Homo sapiens: one gene and its partners. The protein of the gene in region 5 purifies or fractionates together with the protein of the main gene of each other region. This does not show direct contact. Each region holds a gene or a part of one and is shown on either strand. Other genes may lie near its edges. The genes, in order: AP1G1, SLC25A3, ARL1, CPVL and ASB10.

Region 1 (3,518 bases), on a different chromosome or scaffold from region 5:
TGAGAGTGAATCTTCACTCTTGCAACTTTTGGCCCTAGAGAAGACTAGTGTCTCTCTCTCTCAAATATTTTAGAAGTTTAATCTACTTTTAGGAAAGATTTTCAAATGCTAGTTCATACAATAGCTACGTAGTACAGTATGGTTTACCTAGCTTGCCCTATATAGCACTTTTTTTTTTTTTTTGAGACGGAGTCTTGCTCTGTTGCCCAGGCTGGAGTGCAGTGGCACAGTCTCGGCTCACCACAACCTCCTGGGTTCAAGCGATTCTCCTGCCTCAGCCTCCCGAGTAGCTGGGACTACAGGCATGTGCCACCATGCCCAGCTAATTTTTGTATTTTTAGTAGAGACGGGGTTTCACTGTGTTGGCCAGGCTGGTCTCGAACTCCTGACCTCGTGATCCGCTCGCCTTGACCTCCCAAAGTGCTGGGATTACAGGCTTGAGCCACCACACCCAGCCAGCACTTTCAACTCTTATTTCTATAAGCAAGCAAATAAACCCCACCAGCATTCAACAAATTAATACTGTTTGGCTTATCTAGGTCTTTTGCTGTATAGGCTGGTTCTGCAAGTCTTTCCGTTCCTTCTGTCATGTGGAGAGGAGGCTCTGACACATTATAGATTATGCAGGCTTTAAAAAACAAAAGTTCAAGTCTCTGCATCCCAGTTATCCAATCACACAAAAGCCTAAAAGCTTATAGTTGGTGACCAGTATGTTGGTTTGCTATTTTTGGGAAGCTTTTCTTTTCATTTCTTTCTGGCTGTTTTTTAAGCCAAAAGCACCGATATTTTACTTGCATAGTTGATCAGTTACCATTAAGTGAAGTTGCCAGAAGAAGAATTGGTCAGCTTTTGAAAAGAGGTAGGCTAGAATTCCTTCTGCCAGAAAGGAGAATGTGGTTTATTACTAGTTGTCATGATCAAAGAACCGAACAGTGGATTTTTACAAATACCACAGGGAGTCAACTCACGTGCTGTGAATTCCTGATATCTAGAAAACAAGTAGTAGGCAAAACTTAGTAGTAGTGAAATCTGTTGCTTGACCCATCATCTGGGTGTCTAAATGGTTTTTGGTATCTCTGACCTAGCGTTGTGTAATTCTTTTTCTGAAGAGTGCCCTTTGTTCCCCCCTAGACATTCCAGCTGCAGCTCTTGTCTCCTAGCAGCAGCATTGTCCCAGCATTTAACACGGGGACCATCACACAAGTCATTAAAGTTCTGAACCCTCAGAAGGTGAGTAGCACATTTGTAGCCAATATCTGAGCCGAAGTGTAAGCATATTTCCCGAAATAAAATTCTGCTTTGTTTCTTTAGGTTTTTCTGACTCATAGTTAGAGAAGAGATCAATGAAAATGCCTGGTCTAACTTCCTTGCTCTTTTGTAAATAACAAATGGAACCCAGAGACATCAGGTGGCTTAGTGGCATCTTATTAAAATGCAACTTCAAAAAAAGCTAGATTAAAGGTCTGGTTTTTGGGGGTAGGGGAGAAGCTTAGACATTTTAATTTATACACAAGTTGAAATCTGAGGTAAGAGCATTTGTTGAAACCAAATACCTACATTTACTGCTACAGTTATTAAGTATGAATAGAAAAATAGAGGCATTTTAAATGAAGCAGCCAAATGAAAAATAGCTTTAGAAACTGAAATTAAGCAATATTTTTATTATCTCTTCTCAAAGAAATAAGCTCACCTTAATAGTAATCAGTTGGTTTTCAGTTTTTGAAAATGGTTCAGAGAATTTCTTTAATAGAGCTCTACTAGTTGCTCATAAGTAACAGTATACTTTCTTTCTCTTGTAACACTTGCCTTTCCTCTGCTATTCACTATATTTTGAGCATCGGCCTCTATAGTACAAGCACAAACTCCTTTGACCATCTGATACAGAGAGTAAAAAATGTCTTAGTGCATTTGTATTTGAAATCTGCCATACAAAAAGTGTCTAATTGAGTTCTCTTAAAACTACTGCTGTTACCTGTGAGTTAAGTCATTTTTTAAAATTTTATGCTTTAGGAACAAAAGGTCATGTTCACATTTACTGTAGGTTTTTCAGATAAAGCAACAGTGTATCTGAATGGAGAGCGTACGATGAGTATATGTTCACCTCATTTTTTAAGAGACTTGGATACAAGGTTTGAATCTTTTTGAAAAGGACTCAGCAAAATGTTACTAGGAGAATGCTCCATGGTGGCTCACGCCTGTAATGCCAGCATTTTAGGAGGCTGAGGTGGGTGTATTATCTGAGGTCAGGAGTTGAAGACCAGCCTGGCCAACATGGTGAAACCCCGTCTCTACTAAAAATAAAAATATTAGTCTGGTGTGGCGGTGAGCCAAGATTGTGCCACTGCACTCCAGCCTGGGCAATAAGAACAAAACCCTGTTTCAAAAGAAAAGAAAAGAAAAAATGCTCCCAAGGAGTTCTGTCCTTTTAATGCAGTTCAAGGATTAAAGCTAACCGTGTATTCTGCAGATGCGCTTTCTCAACTTGGTGGCATGACATTGTTAGCTTCTTGGCTCAAGCCTAGAGTACTGGGTGTTTTTTGTTGTTGTTTACCTGTCATTCTTAACAGACAGCTTTGCTTTAAGTTTTGACCTCTAAGATTAAAAGTCTATTTGTGGACCGGACAGATTCTGGAGATTTCATTTCAGTATATAATTTGCACTTCTCTTTTCCTCTTATAGCAACAGCTGCGAATGCGGATCAAGCTTACATATAATCACAAGGGCTCAGCAATGCAAGATCTAGCAGAGGTGAACAACTTTCCCCCTCAGTCCTGGCAATGAGGGTTTGGCACCATTCTCATTCTTTATCCCACTCAATCAAAGGAACTCTGGGAAGGAGGTTGTGATTGCTGGCAAGTCCCCCCCAACTGTACCACGGGCATGAGGAGCTGAAGAGAACTGCTGAGGAGGATTTTCCTAAAGTTACTGCTGACCTTGAAGCATTGTTAAAGACTAATGTCCTCTCCTCCACTGTTGAGGCTGGCTGCTTCTGGAGGCTACTTTGCACTCTTCCTCTTCTCCTTTTTCCGCACTTCTCCACCCCTCCCACATTTACAGCCAGAATCAACATTCCCTGGGCCCCTGAGGAAATAAGCAGCTGGTCTGGAGGAGAGGACTGCAATCCATGGCGAAAAAACACTCACTTTGTCTCTGCAGCAAAGAGTTGCCCCTTCTTTCTACTGTTGTTTCTCTGTGGACTGGGCAAGGTGGGGTATTTATTCCTCACTAGCTGGGTTACCATCTTCAGGCACTTTTAACATCTGGCATTCGGAATGGAAATGTAATAATGGACATTAGGGAGCCCTGCCTTTTTCTACTGGTTCCCCCAATGTTTGAAAGAGGCATTAGGCTCCTGGTAGCCTTTTCTGTGCATTGCTGTATACACACAGACACACACATGTATGTTTGTTACCAAGAACTGGTCAGACCTTGCGAGTTTATTTGTAAACACTGGACAGATGGAGTTAAAAAGAGCTTTTGTTGAGATTTGGCATGAAGGATATGGTGCTCTATTTGTA
Region 2 (3,518 bases), on a different chromosome or scaffold from region 5:
AATAATGGAAATGATTATTTGTTCATAATTTCAGACAAGTGTGTTCTAAGTAATTCGTACCTATGTAACCTGCTACAAATGTTACAACCAGCTGCTCTGGCTTTGAACATTCACTGCGGGGCTTAGGAACCACAAACTTGTACAGTGCTTCAACAGTACGTTCAAAGCAGGCGAACTTCATCATGGTGTATGGTATCTGTCTCATCCAGAGAGGAGCAACCCCCTTGTAGAATCTAGGAAATCAAGAGACTTGTTTTACACAGTTGCATACACTCATCTATCAGAGACTGTCATTATTAACAGAAATGTCCGCACACGAGTCGAGTCCTGATAGTAACAAATGGCAGCATAAATGCATGTCATTTCTATCAGAACGTTAGACTAACATGCAGGTATATTTCTCTTACATGCCAATGACTCAAGCACCTTTGACTATACAACCAAAAAAGTTGCTGGATGTTTCTTTGACTACTGGAACCACAAGAAACAAGAAGTTTACAAGTGGAACTCAGTTCAAGATTCATCCACAAAGGTGGATCTAAGGAAGCATGTTGTGGTCATGGAAATTCTTAACTGTGAATAGATCACAAGGATACTAACAAGCCCTCCCTAAAAGTTAATAGTAAATGTTTAGGCCAAACATCAAGTCATTTGTAGACCGACAAATGGTCCTTACTCTAGGGAAAAAAAAAAAACTCAGTCCAGGGCTCAAACCATGTATTAACTTATCTTTACCTCTCAAGTTTATGTTCTACATACAGGTAAATAGACATTAAATGTTATAATAGTCTTTTTAAAAAGTCTGGTAGGCTTAATACTAAAAAATGAAGTTCACAGCCAGACGCGGTGTCTCACGCCTGTAATCCCAGCACTTTGGGAGGCCGAGGCGGGTGGATCACCTGAGGTCAGGAGTTCGAGACCAGCCTGACCAACATGGAGTCTCTACTAAAAATACAAAATTAGCCAGGCGTGGTGGTGCATGCCTGTAATCCCAGCTATTCAGCAGGCTGAGGCAGGACAATCACTTGAACCTGGGAGGCGGAGGTTGCAGTGAGCTGAGATAGTGCCATTGCACTCCAGCCTGGACAACAAGAGCAAAACTCCGTCTCAAAGAAAAAAAAAAAAGAAGCCGGGTGCGGTGGCTCACACCTGTAATCCCAGCATTTTGGGAGGCCAAGGTGGGCGGATCATGAGGTCAGGAGATGGAGACGGTGAAACTCCGTCTATACTGAAAAATACAAAAAATTAGCTGGGCGCAGTGGCAGGCGCCTGTAGTCCCAGCTACTTGGGAGGCTGAGGCAGGAGAATGGCGTGAACCCGGGAGGCGGAGCTTGCAGTGAGCCGAGATCACGCCACTGCACTCCAGCCTGGGTGACAGAGCGAGACTTTGTCTCAAAAAAACAAAACAAAAAAAAAAACAAAAAAAAATGAAGTTCACTTAAAATAAGTACTTTCATAGTATAAATTTTTAAGTGTTTACTTACGCTTTTAGGCCTTCTTCCTTATACATTTTGGGAGCTGCATCCCTCAAAGTGTTGGCATAACCTGGCTGGGTTTGAATTCGAACCTTAGCAGCTTCCATAGGAGCCAGGGCAATGTCAGCAAAGAATTCAGCACTGGCAGAGGCAGCCAAATATAGTGATGTGCGCCAGAGATAAGTATTCTCCTAAAATCCAAAACACAAGGAAGGGATGTGAATTGCTGTTGTGTTGGTTTTCAATTGAAGTGACAGTTCTAGAAAACAACTAAGCTTCAGACATTTTATAAAGTAACACACGATGATATGGAATATATATGTGGTCTCATAACCTCATTAACAAAACACGTAACTATGTGAACAACATGAATATTCAAAAAATATCTAGATGCCATGCCCCGGAACTACGCAAAGGAGTCCCAGAGCCCTTCTCTAAAAAACTCAAAATCCAACTTACTTAGAAAACAAGATAGTATATTAAAAGGAGAATTGTAATTTAATGAAATACATTTATCAACCTGTCTCTGCTGACACAGGCATACGATTTAAAACAAGTTGCTCACTTTGTAGGACCATTTTCTTCAGTGCTAAAATAAGGCAAGACAGACAAAAATCTAAGAACACTCGGAAAGTCTTAAACACTCGGAACATTCAATTTTAAAGTTAATTACATACCTCTCCAAGCATATTGCTATACAAGACTTTAAAGACTTCATAAAAGCCAAACTTGCAGAGTCCCTGCATGGAGTAGCCAAGGAAAGTCGGAGCCCATCCTTTAGCCAAACCACGAACACCATCCTCTTTAAGTGTAACTGAGAATCCGTTAAATATGCCCTTGTACTTTTGGGGGTCCACCTTTATTTAAAACAAGAAAAAAAAAATTAAATGCACCAAACAGCTAACATAAAAATTTAATCTCATGATTATTTTTGTTTGGGTTCCATAATAAATTTCAGCAACTACACAAAAGGTAACTACAGTAATTCCTGCCAGGCACGGTGGCTCACATCTGTAATCCCAGCACTTTGGGAGGCTGAGGCAGGTGGATTACCTGAGCTCAGGAGTTCAAGACCAGCCTGGGCAACACAGTGAAACCCCATCTCTACTAAAATACAAAAAATTGGACGGGCATGGTGGCGTGCACCTGTAATCCCAGCTACTCGGGAGGGTGAGGGTGAGACAGAACAATCGCTTGAGCCTGAGGGAGGGAGGTGGAGGTTGCAGTGAGCCACGATGGCACCACTACACTCCAGCCTGGGCAGCAGAGCAAGACTCCATCTCAAAAAAAAAAAAAGAAATACAGTAGCTCTCCCTTATCCAAGAGTTCATTTTCTGTGGCTTCAGTTATCCAAGGTCAACTGACATCTGAAAATATTAAGATATTTTGAGTGAGGAACTACATTCATATAACTTTTATTAGTTTATGCTTATCACTGTTTATTATTGTTCATTTGATTACTTTTATAAATAGAAACTGTTGTACATTAAGGTCTAGCTTTCTGTGTCAAACCTAAGTCTTGGAGTGATAGTTAAGAGGGTAAAATTTCAACAAAAGCTTTCTGTGTCAAACTTAAGTCTTGGAGTGATAGTTAAGAGGGTAAAATTTCAACAAAAATACGTAACAAAACTGATTCTTAACAGATTTCTTACCACCCAACTCCTACTACTTTTTTTGTGTTTTTTGTTTGTTTGTTTTTTGAGTCTTGCTCTGTAGCCCAGGATGGAGTGCCATGGTGTGATCTCAGCTCACTGCAACCTCCACCTCCCAGGTTCAAGCGATTCTCCTGCCTCAGCCTCCCGAGTAGCTGCGACTACAGGCACGCCACCATGCCCAGCTAATTTTTGTATTTTTAGCAGAGATGAGGTTTCACCATGTTGGCTAGATTGAGTTCTGATCTCGAACTCCTGACCTCAAGTGACCCACCTGCTTCGGCTACCCAAAATGCTGGCATTCCAGGTGTGGGCGACCATGCTTGGCCCACCTCCTACTTTTTAAAAGCTACTGTCTAGATAATAGATATAACTGTATTCCTAACATATG
Region 3 (2,596 bases), on a different chromosome or scaffold from region 5:
TTATGCCTGTAATCCCAGCACTTTGGGAGGCCGAGGCGGGTGGATCATGAGGTCAGGAGTTCGAGACCAGTCTGAGTGACCAACATGGTGAAACCTCATCTCTACTAAAAATACAAAAATTAGCTGGGCGTGGCAGCGGGCACCTGTAGTCCCAGCTACTCAGGAGGCTGAGGCAGGAGAATCACTTGAACCCAGGATGCAGAGGCTGCAGTGAGCCAAGATTGCACGACTGCAACTTCAGCCTGAGCAACAGAGCGAGACACTGTCTTAAAAAAAGAAAAAAAAAAAAGAGACAGGGTCTCCCTCTGTCCCCTAGGCTGGAGTGCAGTGGCACAACCAAAGCTTGTTATAACCTTGAGCTCCTCTCTCTGCTTCCTTTTTTGTTTGTTTTTTAAAAAAATTTTTGTAGAGACCCCTGTGTTGCTCAGGCTGGTCTCCAACTCCTGGACTTAAGCGATCCTCCTGCCTCAGCCCATGTGCATTTCGAATACCCTAGTAATATATAATGAGATGCTATGTTTGGAAAAGTAAATAATTCCCAACTCTACAAAGGCTGCATTGAAGATGGAGACTTTTATACACTGTTGGTAGGGTAACCTTTCTGGAAAGCTGTTCATGCATGTATTCAGTTTATCAAAGCCTGAAAAAAACTGTTCATACTTTGACTCCATTTTTAGAATATTGTGTTAAGGAAACAGATTTAAACAGAAATTTTTGTATAAAGACCCTGTCACTTGGGTTTATCTAATAGTCTAGTGGAAAGACTCTAATAAGAGTCAGATACTAGAAAATAGTTAACACAGTTTATGGTGCATGCATCCATAGTGTAGAGCATATTTAGCCATTTTTTTATTTTGAAAAAGTTGTTGTAGTTTGGAGAAACATGATTTTAATTTTTAGGCAGGGTATGGAACTATATATAAATGTGATCTTAAATGTGTAAATGTATTTACTAAATAAACTCTGAAGTATCTGCAAAACAAAGTACTAGTAGAAAACACCTAAAATGTTAACAGTGATCATATTTGGGAGGTAGGATTATGAGTGAAGCTTCTTTTCTTTATACTTCTCTATATAATTTCTATATAATTTCATAATGTGTAATATATTAATTATAAAATACACGTTTAAAATGTATTTTTGGACATTTTCTAAACTCGAGAGAGCACATTAGTTAAAAGAAATTAAATATTTTCAATTTCATTTAGGAAGAAGAGCTGAGAAAAGCCATTTTAGTGGTGTTTGCAAATAAACAGGACATGGAACAGGCCATGACTTCCTCAGAGATGGCAAATTCACTTGGGTTACCTGCCTTGAAGGACCGAAAATGGCAGATATTCAAAACGTCAGCAACCAAAGGCACCGGCCTTGATGAGGCAATGGAATGGCAAGTATCATGCTTCCAGAAGCCATCTGTGCATTTGTGTGTGCTTGCAGCTATGCACGTCCACGTGTAATTTTTCTCCCGTGTTGAGGATGAAACTTTGATTTACTTAGCAGCTTATTTCATAAGTTCCTCAAGCGTTTTCTCTCACTGGTCTTCAGGTGCATCTGTCTTCTCAACCACACCTACCTGATTACAGTTACTTAGATAAGCAAATTCTTTGCCAATTTTTAGCCTTTTCCCTGCCTCACCTCACCCTCCAATTCCTTATCCTTCAGGAATTAGCTTAAGACTCTCTTCTGAAGAGCTTTTCCTAATGTATCTCTATTCCTACTGCCTAATCACTCACTTAAAGTTAGATGCCCTTGTCACAGATTAGTGACATAGTACTTGTTTTGCTGTCTTGTAAGTTTGATTTGTTCATCTACTCATTAGATAATCACCTCCTTGAGGATTGAGACTAGTTTCACCTCTGAGTCATCCATATGTAGCCCAGAAGTAGTAGTAGCCTGGAAAATAGGTATTTGGTCTTTTTTGAATTTTTCATTCAAATCATAGACAAATTCAAAGCTTAGAGGAACCTTATGGATATCTAGTGCATAACCTCATCTGTGTTAGCTGTCATCATTTTAAGTACTTTGGAATCCACCTCCAATACAAAGTTTATTATAGATGATCATGCTTTATACCTGAAAATTAATTTTATAAAACAGTTCATTTTCTCTTTACAGGTTAGTTGAAACATTAAAAAGCAGACAGTAATTCAGTCCATTCTTCTCCCCTGAAATGAAGACTACATCACCTCTCTCCCTTTGGAAACAGTCAAGTGTACTTCACACTACTAGATGTTAAAACTATATGATTATTGGCATATACTGACTGACTGCAATATTTGTAGTAAATAGGGAAAATAAGTATTTAGTTGGAGGGATAATTTGATCGAATCACCTGAATGTTCTATGTAATGTAAAATATTCTTTTCTTGCTTTCTTGTGTTAAGGTATATATTCTATTTGTATGGAATTCTTATTCAAATACAGTTCTATTAAAGAGTATACTCCTATTGGATGAAAAAAACCTATTTTTGAATAGTAGTTGCAGCTTGTTTGTATAAATACTAAAAAATATCTTAACAGATTTTTTTCCCCTTAAAATGAATTATCTTTCCAAAGATTAGACTCAGTATGAGAGTAGGTGAGGAACATAGTTTGT
Region 4 (3,518 bases), about 120 Mb from region 5:
AATACCTCAAATAAAAGGTGTAACCCTAAAACCAATAAATCAAGAAACAGATTAGGCAGATTACTTGGAAATTTGGAATTAAAGGCTAGAACAGACAGGTAAAAGTATGAGAGGAGGTCTCAGAGATAAGAGAAGGATGGGGAGGTGGGGAGAAGAAGACTAAAATTTTTTATCATGAGAATTATAACATTACTTTTATTATATTGACAAAAATCAAAAGTAGTTAAGAAGAACTCAAAAACTAAACTTATTATCTCCTTCCCTAAACTTGTCCTTACTTCCCTATTTTTCATCTTGGTTGGAAATACTCCCATCAACTCAAGTACTAAAGCCAGAAATCCAGGATGTATTCTTTATTTATCCATTTTTCTCTGGCCCTGCATTCCCACAGCCAATCAATCACCAACTGAATCTCCTAGATGTTCTTCAAATTCACCTTCACCTCTCTAAATCTACTCTCATGGCCTAATCCAGTTCTTTATTGTGACTTGCCTGGACTACTGCAAACCTCCAAACTAGTTTCCAACCTTGACTTTAACTCCTAATTAAATGAATCCCTCTATACTTCCCTCATGTGCTGCTGTCTCTCCTATTGAGGTGGCATCACTGTCTGGGGTAAATACCTGGGGTTCGCCATCTCATGCCAAGATTAAGGACATGGACACGCACAAGGAGTGAGTTTAGGAGCAGAGGTTTAGTAGGCAAAAGAAAGAGAAAGGAGAACACTTCTCTCTCTTGCAAGAGAGGGGCATCTGAATGGGAAATCTGGCCCTCCGTGGAGTGCACCAGATTTTATAGACAGGCTTGAGGAGGTGGTGTCTGATTTATATAGACAAAGATTGGCCCACAGATTGGCTGGACCAGGTGTGACATTTACATAGCATGCAGGGAAGCTGGCCACCTCACCCTAACCTTATTAAGCAAATGGGCTTTCCACTTGGCCAGCATTACTGTCTGTTCCCTACTGTACACATGGTTGGAAAGGAAAAGGGAAGACGGAGCTGCCATTTTGAACATGCCTAGCCCAGGTAGCCTTTTCCTATTGGCACAACTGCCGGCATTCACCTGTGCAAGCTTCCAGCTTACTTGTCTATGTGTGTAGCTCAATTTTATAGGCAGGCTGCTCTTTGTTAGAAAAGAAAATGATTTGGGGTCTGCTTTTCATTAAAAGGAAAACCTTACCGAGGACTCCTGTACTCTCACTATCTGCCCAAATAATTTCTTCTTAACGCCTATATCACTATTTTGGGAGGTCATAGAATTTATAGCATTTAAAAATTTGTTATGCAGCAATAGATAACCAATACAGAGGCAGGAGAAAAGCATAAGTAGGAAGTGGAGAAATAGGATGGAATCTAGAGAAGTCAGTAGAGAGCTGATCAGGGAGAGTTTTCTAGATATGCTAAGAATCTTTATCCTCTAGTGACTAGGAACTACTGAAGGGCTTGATAATTTGAAAAGAGTACTATGAACATCAATGTAAGGATGGACTTAAGCCAGAAAGACAGCAGGCAGGAAGGCCAGTTAATATGTTTCACAATAATCTAGAATAAAGATGACAGGAGTTTGAACTAGGGCTGGAAACTAGTAATAATAGCGTGGAGAGGGCAGACTTAAAAATAATTAGAAGGTTGACTGGGAGCAGTGGCTCACGCCTGTAATCCCAGCACTTTGGGAGGCCAAGGTGGGTAAGATCACCAGAGGTCAGGAGTTCCAGACCAGCCTGGCCAACATGACAAAACCCTGTCTCTACAAAAAAATACAAAAATTAGCCAGGCTTGGTGGTATGTGCCTGTAATCCCAGCTATTCAGGAGGCTGAGGTGGGAGGATCACTTGAACACCGGAGGCAGAGGTTGCAGTGATCCAAGACCACGCTGCTGCACTCCAGCCTGGGCAAAAGAGCGAGACTACGTCTCCAAATAATAATAATAAGAAGAAGAAGAAGAAAGTAAAACTGGAAGAAACTTGTGATTATATATTAGAGTTGAAATAGAACAAAGAATCTAGGATGATCCCAGATGTGACTTAGATGGCTGGGTGGGTGGACAGTGGTGCCATTAACCGAGAAAGAGAGAGACCCAGATCCCTGGGAGTGAAAATCAGCTCTGCTGCTAATCAGTCTAAGATGCTCCCAACAGAACATTAACAATGTTTCTATATACCCAAGGCCACTCTGCAGCTGCAGTATGATGGACAGTCCTTTTTTCTGAGCAACTGCTGTATTCTTACCAATGATAGCGCTTTGTCCCTCCCATCTCCTGAACAGAGACTGCTGAGAGTCTAAGTTCCTGAGCTGCCACGGGCACTTGGCAGCAGCTAATCCAGCGGGTACCTCTTCCCTGATCCCTCCTTCGACTCATTCAGCACAAGGCCAAATATTTCAGAGGCCTCTTCCCACTTCTCCCAACCTTTGGGTATGTGTCCTCCTTTGCTGGACATAATGCTAACACACCTAACTTTGTGTCATTACACATGTATTTCTCATATTCTCTGCTGAGTGGGTTTCAACTTCCATCCCACTTGAAAGGTGTGCTGAGAAAAGGTAGAAGGAGACTAAAAAATAGGGAGAAAAGAGACAATAAAGCCAGACCGTAGAGGATGGCTGCGGGCTCCCTATAGTACATTACATTCTAAGACGAGCAGGAAAGGCTCTGCCACAATTCCTGAATGTACAAGGTCAAAAGTTCCAGCCTTCACTTTGCCAACAGGTATATCCTTGGGCAAGCCAATTCACTTCTCCCCTTGGACTTCAGTTCCTTCATTTGTAAATTCTGGAGATTAGATGGACTATATAATTCCCAAAATCCCTTTCAGCTTGGAATGTCTAAGATTCTAAAAATGCAGCCAAGGAGATCAGGCTAAAACTGCTTCAGGCTTTGAGTCACAGGGATGATTCACGCAGGCTACCTTAATGAAAGAACTTCCACATCTGCTCTAGGTGCCCTGAACCTACACATTTCTGTCAGTGTTCGTAAGACAACCTAAGAAACCTAAGAAAGGCTATTCTTGGGGGGGCAGGGGGGCTACAACACTGATTAAATTACATGTTTTTTAAGCACAGATTTTTTAAAAATCCTATTAAAATTCTAAATCAGTGGCTTCCAGCAATTTTTCTCTGAAACAGACGTCTCGGATTTTGCAGACACCAATGTTCAGGCACACGTGTACACAAGAATGGTGGAAAGAGTCATGGTTTTACATGGAGTGTGCAGTCTGCCAGCTCAGAAATCTCCTGTGTCCCAACGGCACAGGCGGTTCATTCTCCTGCCAGCCAAGTTAATTCTACCAACATGCCAATAGTTAGAAGGGGAGAAAACAAAACAAAACAAATTATTTCCACTTGACTTGCTGATTGCTAATAATATTCTTCATCAAGTAACCCAGGCAGGAACACTTTTCATCTTCAGAATTAGCTATGGCTGCCATTTCCCCTTTTGTCAAATACAGGGAGATATTTCCCACGGTCTGCACATGACTCAGAATGGCTTCATCTTTATTTCACGTTCTACATTTCTTG
Region 5 (4,184 bases):
ACATGGGTGAAGTCTGAAGACATCATGCTAAGTGGAATAAGCCAGTTACAAAAGGACAAATACCACATGATTCCACTTATGTGAGGTCCCCAGAGTGTTCACATTCAGAGACAGAAAGTAACATAGTGATTGCCAGGGGCTTGGGAGACAGGGTGGGGTGGGTGGTTAGTGTTTGATGGGGTTAGAATTTCAGTTTGGGAAGATGAGAAAGTTTGGAGATGGATGGTGGCGATGGTTGAACAACAACATGAATGTGCTTAATGCCATCGAACTGTACGCTTAAAAATGGTTACAAAAGGCCGGGCACGGTGGCTCGTGCCTGGAATCCCAGCACTTTGGGAGGCCGAGGCGGGCAGAACACGAGGTCAGGAGATTGAGACCATCCTGGCTAACACTGTGAAACCGCGTCTCTACTAAAAATACAAAAAATTAGCCAGGCATGGTGGCGGGGGCCTGTAGTCCCAGCTACTCGCGAGGCTGAGGCAGGAGGATGGCGTGAACCCGGGAGGCGGAGCTTGCAGTGAGCCGAGATCGCACCACTGCACTCCAGCCTGGGCGGCAGAGCAAGACTCCGTCTCAAAAAATAAATAAATAAATAAAAAATGGTTACAAAGGCAAATTTCATGTATATTTTACCACCATTTTGAAAATTAATTTTACATATTTGTCTTTTTTTTTTTTTTTTTGTGAGACAAAGTCTCACTTTGTCTCCCAGGCTGGAGTGCAGTGGCGCAATCTAATCTCCGCTCACTGCAACCTCCACCTCCCAGGTTTAAGCAATTCTCCTGCCTCAGCCTCCCGAGTCGCTGGGATTACAGGCGCCTGCCACCACACCCAGCTAATTTTTGTATTTTTAGTAGAGACAAGGTTTGGGCATGTTGGCCAGGCTGGTCTCGAACTCCTGGCCTCAAGCAAGCCACCTGCCTCAGCCTCCCAAAGTGCTGGGATTACAGGTGTGAGCCACCGTGCCCGGCCATTTGTCATTTTTTTTATAGGGCTGCTAGAACACTGTAAATTGCATATATGGCTCACATTAGGTTTCCACTGGGCCACGCTAGTAAAGAACACATCTTCAACCATAGTATGATTAAGCCTGTGGAATCCTCTAGAGGCTGATGAGATTAACAAGAAGGAGAGGGTCCATGAAAGGAGAACCCCAGGGTCAATAATTTGGCACCTTTCAGAGGCAAGAGACAAGACCTGCAGGTGTGCAGTCAGTAGAGAGAGGGCCTCTATAGGATGTAGAGTTAGTTCACAAAATTGTAATTGGGATCCCATCCTACAACGTTCCTTACACTTGGGTTGCAATTATTTATGTCACTGCAAAGGACTATTCCCTACAATAAATGATACATTGGCACATTTGGGTGTATTCATCAGTTTCTTGGGAGTTTAGTTAGTGAGAGTCCCTTGAGCCCATGATCTGAGGGTGCCCTACCAATATGGAGATTCTAGACCTGTCTTGGAAAACCAGACCCTACCCAGAGGGACCCAGGCAGGTCCTCACTGGGGCCACCATCCTCTACTCCCTGTCTGGATCACTGGACAGTAAGCTCCCTGAGGGCAGGGCCTCAGGGACTTAGTTGCTGTTGTGCTTAGCACAGTGCCTGGAACATAGGATAAGCTCAGAAAGTGTTTTCAAAAATTTTAAGCAACACCACCTCCCCATAATGGAGCCAGGCAATTTCCCAATGCGGGCCATGCAACTGCACCCCTGCCACAGCCTCCCTCCACCCCTGGGAGACCAGAAAACTGTCCAAAGTCCAGGCCACTCCAAAGTTCATGGGGTCAACGGGTGGATGGCTTGGGAAGTAATTGCACCCTGACCCGCGCCCCAAGCCTGGACTGCTCTGTCCCAGGTCCCTGACATTTTCCCCCATCCTCCCTGAGAAGGCCTCTTTGCTTCCCTTCAGAGTGGAACTGGGGGTTGGGGTGAGGGGTCACTCACTCAAGGGTGCCAGGCCCCCGGCAGAGATGCAGGGGGCGTTTCCCATCCTGGTCAGCGATGTTGGGGTCGGCTCCTGCCACCAGCAGCACATGAACACAGGCAGTGTGGCCTGCAGCACAGGCCTCGTGCAGGGCGGTGCGGCCCCCAGGGGCACTGTCTGGCCTTGCTCGCCGCCTCAGCAGCAGCCGCAGGACTTCCGTGTGGCCACGGCTGGCTGCCACATGCAGTGGGGTGGTCAGCTCCTCTTCGTATGTCAGAGACCAGAGTCCTAGGGAGGGGAGACGTGGGCCTCAGATCCCCAGGGAAGGCAGAGACCTTCCAGCCAATGGGGTGAGGTGGGCAGAGGCAGGAAGAGGGAGCCCAGAGCTCCATCTGCAGCCTCCCCTCTCTCCCACTGAGAGCCCCCAGTGCCCCGGCCCGTACTCAGAGCACGGATGTTGAAGCGGAAATCCCTCCATCGCTCTGGGTCGCTGGTATCAAAGACGGAATCAGGAGCCAGGCCAGTACTGGAGTCCGCGAGGATGCGGGAGACACAGCCCACGTCCCCAGCCAGCACTGCCTGCCAGAAGGCAAGGGCAGGTCCTGAGGCTGTGCGGGTGACGATGGGTCCCGGGCCAGACTTGAGGTGCTCCTCAGACCCTCTGCTGGGCTTCTCCACCAGCCTGGCACAGAGGGGGTGTCTGTCATCGAGGGGCTCTCCCTGCCCCTTGCACTCTTCTGGAGACCAACTCATGAGCATGTGGGCAGGGAAAGGGGAGTGGGGAGGAGGAGAGGTATATGCCAAAGGCAGAGAGAGAGAGAGAGAGCAGGAGGGAAATACAGACAGACAGAAGGCCCCTGTGTCCCACGCTCCGAGGCTGACCTGGCCACGCATCCAGCAGGAGCTATTCTGGGCTCCACATGACTGTGTTCTTGGGCCAAGGTGTAGGCTATTGGGCAAGCTTTGAGGTCGGGGAGAAACAGCCGGGGGCTTCTCCTTTCACTCAAGCCCTTAGGACCTCTGTGGCCGAGGCAGTCAGCCCAGCCCCCTGGTTCTCAGCAACCCCCAGATGCCCCTCACCCCTCTGGTGGCTGCTCCAGCGAGGCTCTGCGGCCCGGCTCTCCAGCAGCAGGTCGGCTGTGCTGTGCGGGGGGAACAGCTCCTGCAACCTTGCCAGGTCCCCGGTGTAGAGGGCATTCTGCAGGGCCATGTCTTGGCAGAGCAGTGGTGATGGCCGAGGGGGCTCCCAGGCTGGGCGGGAGTGGGGCCTCCAGATCCGGCAGGCCGGGGCGGAGGGAAGGCACCCCAGATGGTGTCCCCAGTGGGGAGAGGAGTTCTTTCCCCAGGGCATGGCTTGTTCTGGGAGAGCCAAAGCAGCACGACTCCCAGCGATGTTGCTGGTGGACTGGGCAGGTGGGTGCTGGGCCCGAGCTGGGTGGGGCCCAGCATGGGAGGCGCAGGGGAGCACAACATCAGGCAAAGCCATAAATAGCCCTGACTGGCCCAGCTGTCAGTCAGGCCGGGTGGGGGAATTAGGGAGGGGCAGGAGAACAAGTGAGGCCTGAGCCCGCCAACCCTGAGCTTCACCCCAGGGCTGTATGACCTCAGGGTGGAAAGGGACCACCCGGACCATGCTGCCCAGTCCGTCATCTCGGCATTAAAGGGAAGTGAATTTCCCAAGATCACGCAGAGAGCTTGTTGCAGAGCCAGGACTGGAACCCAGGGCCTTGAGCTCTTTCTTGTTCACCAAATCGGCCTCCAGCTGCCTGGGCTCTGATCCCACTGGGAAGGCCTGTGGGTGCCAGATAATATTTCCTGCCCTTCCAAATGTCATCTGTTAGCCCTGCACCTTCCCACTCCCAAACCAAGGGAGGAGTTCACAGTAGTGACACAGATTGCCCTCGCTGTGTGAGGCACCCCTCAGGGGGCTCCCTTAGACAGACGTGTGCCTGAGTAACAGAGCGTAACCCACAGGCAAGCCACAGAAACTCCCCATGCTCGTCCTTGATGCCAACCCCCCCATCTCCCTGGATGACCTTGGGTGGCATCTCTCCCCTGCTGTGGTTACATGGGGTCTCTTCACTAGAGAGTGAGAAAGGAGAAATGTCTCTGTGTACTCAGGCACTGACTTTTGTTTGGGGGCCGGGTGGATCAAAAGGAAAAAAAGAGAGAAAGAAGATGAGAAACCAGGCCCTCGGGCTCAGCTCTGACCCACCACTGCCCACCATGGGCTTGAGGTGCTCCAGCCCCATTGGT

The links.
Region 1: the proteins of ASB10 (region 5) and AP1G1 purify together in Homo sapiens (affinity purification with mass spectrometry, with the first as the bait; one large-scale study listed by BioGRID). This does not show direct contact.
Region 2: the proteins of ASB10 (region 5) and SLC25A3 purify together in Homo sapiens (affinity purification with mass spectrometry, with the first as the bait; one large-scale study listed by BioGRID). This does not show direct contact.
Region 3: the proteins of ASB10 (region 5) and ARL1 purify together in Homo sapiens (affinity purification with mass spectrometry, with the first as the bait; one large-scale study listed by BioGRID). This does not show direct contact.
Region 4: the proteins of ASB10 (region 5) and CPVL purify together in Homo sapiens (affinity purification with mass spectrometry, with the first as the bait; one large-scale study listed by BioGRID). This does not show direct contact.

Annotation. Positions count from the first base shown.
Region 1 is NC_000016.10:71,732,321-71,735,838, reverse strand, and holds part of AP1G1 (AP-1 complex subunit gamma-1), read left to right. Parts: intron 1-1,131; coding exon 1,132-1,230; intron 1,231-2,679; coding exon 2,680-2,781; 3' UTR 2,782-3,518. UniProt on the Homo sapiens protein: Subunit of clathrin-associated adaptor protein complex 1 that plays a role in protein sorting in the late-Golgi/trans-Golgi network (TGN) and/or endosomes.
Region 2 is NC_000012.12:98,596,670-98,600,187, reverse strand, and holds part of SLC25A3 (solute carrier family 25 member 3 isoform b precursor), read right to left. Parts: intron 2,333-3,518; coding exon 2,153-2,332; intron 1,667-2,152; coding exon 1,485-1,666; intron 554-1,484; exon of another isoform or gene 304-553; intron 234-303; coding exon 61-233; intron 1-60. UniProt on the Homo sapiens protein: Inorganic ion transporter that transports phosphate or copper ions across the mitochondrial inner membrane into the matrix compartment. Mediates proton-coupled symport of phosphate ions necessary for mitochondrial oxidative phosphorylation of ADP to ATP.
Region 3 is NC_000012.12:101,395,190-101,397,785, reverse strand, and holds part of ARL1 (ADP-ribosylation factor-like protein 1), read left to right. Parts: intron 1-1,208; coding exon 1,209-1,387; intron 1,388-2,115; coding exon 2,116-2,146; 3' UTR 2,147-2,596. UniProt on the Homo sapiens protein: GTP-binding protein that recruits several effectors, such as golgins, arfaptins and Arf-GEFs to the trans-Golgi network, and modulates their functions at the Golgi complex.
Region 4 is NC_000007.14:29,136,523-29,140,040, forward strand, and holds part of CPVL (probable serine carboxypeptidase CPVL isoform b precursor), read right to left. Parts: intron 1-3,518. UniProt on the Homo sapiens protein: May be involved in the digestion of phagocytosed particles in the lysosome, participation in an inflammatory protease cascade, and trimming of peptides for antigen presentation.
Region 5 is NC_000007.14:151,184,444-151,188,627, forward strand, and holds the start of ASB10 (ankyrin repeat and SOCS box protein 10), read right to left. Parts: upstream 2,808-4,184; 5' UTR 2,688-2,807; coding exon 2,372-2,687; intron 2,217-2,371; coding exon 1,949-2,216; intron 1-1,948. UniProt on the Homo sapiens protein: May be a substrate-recognition component of a SCF-like ECS (Elongin-Cullin-SOCS-box protein) E3 ubiquitin-protein ligase complex which mediates the ubiquitination and subsequent proteasomal degradation of target proteins.